Linked DNA regions of Homo sapiens. The protein of the gene in region 2 purifies or fractionates together with the protein of the main gene of each other region. This does not show direct contact. Each region holds a gene or a part of one and is shown on either strand. Other genes may lie near its edges.

What was found.
Region 1: the proteins of C6orf15 (region 2) and FBXO21 purify together in Homo sapiens (affinity purification with mass spectrometry; one large-scale study listed by BioGRID and IntAct). This does not show direct contact.

Annotation. Positions count from the first base shown.
Region 1 is NC_000012.12:117,183,971-117,187,470, forward strand, and holds part of FBXO21 (F-box only protein 21), read right to left. Parts: intron 2,602-3,500; coding exon 2,507-2,601; intron 1-2,506. UniProt on the Homo sapiens protein: Substrate-recognition component of the SCF (SKP1-CUL1-F-box protein)-type E3 ubiquitin ligase complex.
Region 2 is NC_000006.12:31,110,723-31,113,820, forward strand, and holds C6orf15 (uncharacterized protein C6orf15 precursor), read right to left. Parts: upstream 1,854-3,098; 5' UTR 1,834-1,853; coding exon 1,767-1,833; intron 1,570-1,766; coding exon 659-1,569; 3' UTR 501-658; downstream 1-500.

The DNA.
Region 1 (3,500 bases), on a different chromosome or scaffold from region 2:
ATTCTGGGATGCATTTGTCAATTATCCTCTGCTACTGATGCAGCTATTTTTATTGAATCACTGTGCTGTTTGGATTATAAGTAGCTTTATAAGATGGCCTAATATCTAGTGATGCCAGTTTCCCATTATGATTACTGAAAAATTGTTTTCTGGCTCTTCTTGTGAATTTAGTCTTCTGTATATATTTTATGACATCCAAATGAAAGAAAAGAAAAAAGCAAAACAACTCCCCCCTGCTCACCACCCCCAACAAAAATACTTTGTTTGAATCCTAATTGGAATGACACTAGGTTTATAAATTAATTTGGGGAGAACTGACATTTTTTGTGATAGCAAGTCTTCACATTCCAGGACATGCTATCTATTTTATGTCTTTCAATAACATCCTATAGTCTGAACTGGGAAACCCATTCCCAGGACTCTACTGCCTAGAAACATCACTCCTCACAGTGACACAAAATGGAAAAAAAAGTGGTTGTCCATCTATAGGAAAATTATGTAGGCTAGGCACGGTGGCTCACGCCCATAATCTCAGCACTCTGGGAAGCCGAGACCAGCAGATCACGTGACATCAGGAGTTTGAGACCAGCCTGACCAAGAGGGAGAAACACCGTTTCTACTAAAAATACAAAATTAGCTGGGTGTGGTGGTGGGCACCTGTAATCCCAGCTACTCAGGAGGCTGAAGCAGGACAATCTCTTGGACCCAGGAGGCAGAGGTTGCCAAGATCACGCCATTGCACTCCAGCCTGGGCTACAAGAGCGAAATTCCATCTCAAAAAAATAAAAATAAGTAAATAAATTATGTAACATACCACAAAAGAGTAAGTAGACATTAACAATAGTGATTTTGATGTTTTACCCGTTGAAGAGGATGGATTTCCATAAGGTACTGTTGAATGAGAAAAAACAATATAGAAAAGTACCTATTATGTGATCCCAATTTTGTGCAATAATGATCCCTTCCCATACTCATCACTGTCAGCAAGAAGAATGCAACCTGGGCTGTTATCAAGAATTACAGAGGTGGGGGCAGGAAAGGACAATGTAAACAGAGGGAATGGGGAGGAAAAAGGAAACAGCATAAATAAGAGAAAAACCAGGTCTGTACTAAACACCAAACCAAAACAACCAACAAAGTAGGTATGAGGTCCCATTTATGTATTTTAAAGTACATATGCACATTAAAAAACACAAGTCAGCTTTTATTTTTAAGACTGCACAATACTGACTACTAGATCATACTTCAATTCATTTATAGATAAACCAAAATAGAAATGGAAAAATGACCTCTGCATCTGAACTCATCCAAGGCCTAGAATAGTGACACATCTTACCTCTACCCACAGTTGTTCCACTGATAGATATTTCTCTCTCCTAAATCCCCTTTAAAAAACAACATAAATATTTCATGCCTTGTTTGTGAGATATTTCGCAAAGATTCCTTTTAAGGAAGATGTTAAACTAACATTCTTATCTTCCATCACTAGAAAGTTTTCAGAACTTTTAGAACAGAAAGTCTTTTCCACAGGAAAGTTAGGCTGGAAGCCCACTCATCTTTCAGGGAAAAACTGGAAATTAACCTTCACAGCAGAAAATAAAAGGTATATGAAATTTTAAGCAATAACCAAGACATAAGGGGTTCTTCTTGATCAAGTGAGTCCCTAAGTACGCAGTTTTCTGACTGGAAGATAAAAGAAAGGCTCACCCAAAGATCTACAGTGTTCAAAGAACAAAGTAGATTATTTTGTACCGCAATTCAGAAATTGTAAAAAATCATCCATTAAATTAAGACATGCCTAAGAAATTATTATTTTTAAATTAAAAGATTCAATTCATGATAGGCAAATCTGATAGTAAGTGGAGAGGTAATAATGAAGGAAGGATGATTTATATTACCAGAAGGTTTCTTTTTTTTATGAGACGAAGTCTTGCTCTTGTCCCCCAGTCTGGAGTGCAATGGTGCAATCTCGGCTCACTGCAACCTCCACCTCCCGGGTTCAAATGATTCTTCTGCCTCAGCCTCCCGAGTAGCTGGGATTACAGGTGTGTACCACCACACCCAGCTAATTTTTTGTATTTTTTTAAGTAGAGATGGGGTTTCACCACGTTGGCCAGGCTGGTCGCGAACTCCTGACTTCAGGTGATCCGCCCATCTCGGCCTCCCAAAGTGCTGGGATTACAGGCGTGAGCCACCGTGCCTGGCCTATTACCAAAAGGTTTCTAAACAACACAACAGATACAAGGGTCTGGGGCACAGTATTTGACCCATAGTAGTGCTAAACATTAATTCCATTTTCTTTCCAAAAGGATTTTTGTAAGGTTTCTTTATATGTCAATTGTCTTGGTGTATCTACCTAATATACACAGAACTTTTCAAAACTGTAACTATGACAAGGCGTGAAATATTTGGAATCACATATTCCAGGGTTTAGCCACACAGAAATTACAGCAATTTACTCTGGACTTATTAAAGCAAACAAATCCCTGCTAAAGCTATGGCTTACCTTCCTTCCATATTTAGGATACACACCAGTTCATCCTCAAAAAAAATCTCTGGTCCTTCAAGGTTCTCAATGTCACTGAAGCCATTACAAGGAACCTATGAAGAAGACATATACAAGTAGGCCTCAATTATGAGTATTGATGCAACTCTCACTCTCACAAATTTGAGCTGAAATAAAGATGTCCACTACTAAAGACAGTGCTAACAGTTATTCTACACTACCTTGCACTACCAGTCATGGGTAGAAAATAACATAAAGTAACAATAATTTACTGAGGTTTTGTTGTTGTTTGTAATCAATGATGTTTTCATAGACTGGAATTTCTGAAACTGACAACTCACAGTTCTAACGTAAAGAAAACTAGCTCTGGCCGGCCATAGTGGTTCATGACTGTAATCCCAGAACTTTGGGAGGCCAAGGCAGGCAGATAACCTGAGGTAAGGAGTTTGAGACCAGCCTGATCAACGTGGTGAAACCCCATGTCTACTAAAAATACAAAATTAGCCAGGCATGCCTGTAATCCCAGCTACTTGGGAGGCTGAGGCAGGAGAATCACTTGAACCCGGGAGGCGGAGGTTACAGTGAGCCAAGATTGCGCCATTGCACTCCAGCCTGGGCAACAAGAATGAAACTCCGTTTTAAAAAAAATAAAAAGGCGGCGGCGGCAGGTGCAGTGGCTCACGCCTGTAATCCCAGCACTTCGGGAGGCTGAGGTGGGCGGATCACCTGAGGTCAGGAGCTCGAGACCAGCCTGACCAACATAGAGAAACCCCATCTCTACTAAAAATACAAAATTAGCCAGGCGTAGTGGCGCATGCCAGTAATCCCAGCTACTCGGGAGGCTGAGGCAGGAGAATCACTTGAACCTGGGAGGCAGAGGTTGCGGTAAGCTGAGATCACACCATTGCACTCCAGCCTGGGCAACAAGAGTGAAACTCTGTCTCAAAAAAAAAAAAAAAAAAAAAAAAAAGATCTTCTGAGTTTAAAATTCTAT
Region 2 (3,098 bases):
AAGTCTGTGGTTCTGTGGGACACAATGTGCTAAATGATGCCTGTAAGGGAGGAGGTCGATGTACCTCCACTTCCAAGAAGCTTGACTTTCCGGGGAAGAAAAGACAAGTGAAGCGTAGACATTGCGACTTTTGGCTTCCTGTTTCTGTGAGTTGCAAGGAATCCTGTCCACCTGGCCCTGGAGCCGCCTTCTGGGACCTCATCCTTGCCCCCTGCTGCAGGTGCCATCTCAATTAGTCCTGCTGTCCCTCCTCCCCCTTTCAGATTCCAGCACAATTCTGGAACAGCTCTCCCACCTGGCCGGGGTGAGACTGAGGCTCCACCCTCAAGCACTTGGGCACTGATCCTTTGTGAAGGATGGGGATAGCAAGACAGCGTCTGCAGGGGCCCCTAGAGGGCCGTGGGGATGGCTAGAAAACAGGAATGAACAGACTCACTTCAGCTTATGCCCAGACTCACTTCAGCTTATGCCCAGAAACAAAGAAACCAAGGAGAAGCAAATTCCATAAGTGCTTTTATTTTATTGGAGATGAGCAGGGGAGGCACTGAAAAGTGGGGATAGTGCTGGAAACATGCTGACAGGGCCTGGATTGAGCCCACACAGCAAGGGGCGGGAGCAGGACTCTAACTCCCAATGTTGGGTTTCCCTCTATCGTGCTCTAGCCCCACTGCAACCTAGGGCTTGGAGGATTAGGGAAGCCAGCTGGGATGTTCCAAGAAGAGCCAGGAGGGCGGAGGACTCCAGGAGGAAATGGGTTATTGATACCTGGGTATAGATGAATATTCCCCCAGCTGCCTCCTGGATACCGATTAATATTCCCCCAGCTGCCTCCTGGATACCGATTAATATTTCCCCAGCTGCCTCCTGGATACCGATTAATATTTCCCCAGCTGGTACCTGGGGGTTGATTATTGATACCCCAGATTCCCTCAGGGTGTGGCATGGGCCTCGTTCCCCAACCAGTCCCAGGGCCTCCACCTCCCCAGGACACACTGGGATTCAGGGTACCCCAGGGGTGATCAGGCAGAACCCTGTGGATGAGAGACCAGGGAGGGCGTTGGGAAAGGATTTTTCCCCCGGCTCCCAGTGAATTAGAACGGGGCAGTCGTCTGGACTCCGAGTCCTGGTGGAGGAGTGAAGCCTTGGGTGAGAGGCCTGTGGCATCGGGAGAAGACTCCCCAGGCAAAGGGCCACTGCCCGGAGCGAGGGCCGCAGCACTGGAGAGGTAAGAGAGTTCTTCAGGCAGCGCTTCCCCCAGGCGGTCCTCAGCCGCAGCAGCCATCATCTGCCAAGGATCCTCAGGGGGCCAGGAATCCATGGCAGGCAGCCCCCACGATGGAGGCCACCTCTGCACTGCAGAACCTCCTGCAGGTGGGAAGCCATCTGATGCAGGCACGCTGAGCTTCAGAGGAACCCTTGCCAAGTCATTAGACCTAGGGTCCAGAGCGGGCTGCGGATGTTCAGAGTTAGAGGGGCCAGTGGAGGAAGGTTGTCCGAGCTGAGGCAAGTTGGTCCCCAAGTTTTGGGAAACTTTCTCCTCCACAACACCGATGCTCCGGGCAAAGAGGCCTGAGGGAAAGGGAAGATAAAGCAACCAGTGGTCTCCAGTCCCCGAGTCCCCAGTTCCCTTTGCTTCCCCTATGCCTATTCTTCCTTTTCCCTCAGGGACCTAAATGTGTACCCTCCTGCCTTTACCCCTTTCCTTAATTCCTGTTTCCTGGGGGACCTCCAGTCCCTCCTGCCCAAGGGCATCACGGCCTCCATACCTGGGAGATGAAGACAGACCAGGAGCAGGCCCAGAGGAGCGCAGCTCCCTGCCACGCGGCCCTGCATCCTGCTCAGCACCCGATCTCCCTCAGCCCCAAGACAGCCAGCCCTTTATCCTGGTAGTGGGGTGGGGGACAGCAGAAACAGGCTGGGCTAGTGGTTGTGAAGACAATAAACCTCCACATTCCACCCTCATTCCTAATGTGGTCTGTGGCAACAGGTGTCACTTGAATGAATGTCCCAGAGGAAGCTGGGTGTCTCCCGCCCTGGCTCCTTTCCTTGACCTCCCTGCCCCTTCTTGGCCCAGGTGTCCTGGCTCACAGCTCATCCCTGGTTGCCAGCCTCCCCAGCCCTGCTTCTCTATACACAAGGACCTCCACCCTGGGGTCCCACTCTCTTAATTGCCTCTCTCAGCAACAGAAACACTTGTTTCTTTTTGGGAGCTGGATTGTTTCCTCCCAGCACCCCTTTCTCATGCATCCTCATATCTCCTTCACCTTGGCCCCAACCTGCAGGAGGTTCTGGGGTGCAGAAGTGGCCCCATCTGAGGAGCTGCTCCTACATGAGACCCTGGATCTAGCTAGGGAAATGGACCTGGATGCCATCCTTATGAGATACTGACTAATTCCTGCTGCTGCAGTGACAAATTACCATGAACCGAATGGCTTACAACAACATGGATTTATTACTTTACAGTTTTGGAGATCAGAAGTCTAAAACAGGTCTCAGTGGATTAAAATAAAGGTGTCAGCAGGGCTGTGATTCTTTCTGGGGGCCTCAGGGGAAAATCCCTTTCCCTGCTTTTTCACCTTCTAGAGGCATCCTGTGTTCTTTGGCTCATGGTCCCCTTCCTCCATCTCCAAAGCCAAAATCAGCCATTTCTTACACTGTATCACTCAGACTTCCTCTTCTGCCTCCCATGTCCACATTAAGGGACCTGGTGACTACACTGGACCCACCTGAATAATCCATGATAATCTCTGTGAAGTCAGCCGAATAGCAACCTTAATCCCATCTGGAACCTTAATTTCCCTTTGCCATGTAACCTAATTCCTACGTTCCAGGGATTAGGATGTGGACATCTTTGATGGTGTTGGGGTTGAAGACATCATTCTGCCTGCTACTGGTGGTCAGATGTGCCATAGAGTATAAGAAACCTTGGGAGAAAGTGGCTATTTCCAAGTAACAGTAGAGGAGAGCCTTTAAATGCTGCTGTCAAATGGCCAGGACTTGATCCTTGTTGAAGCTGGGCGATGAGAATGTAGAGATTCATTAACAGTTTGTTGGCTTTTAAATATGTTTGCAAATTTTATTATAAAAATGCAATGGCT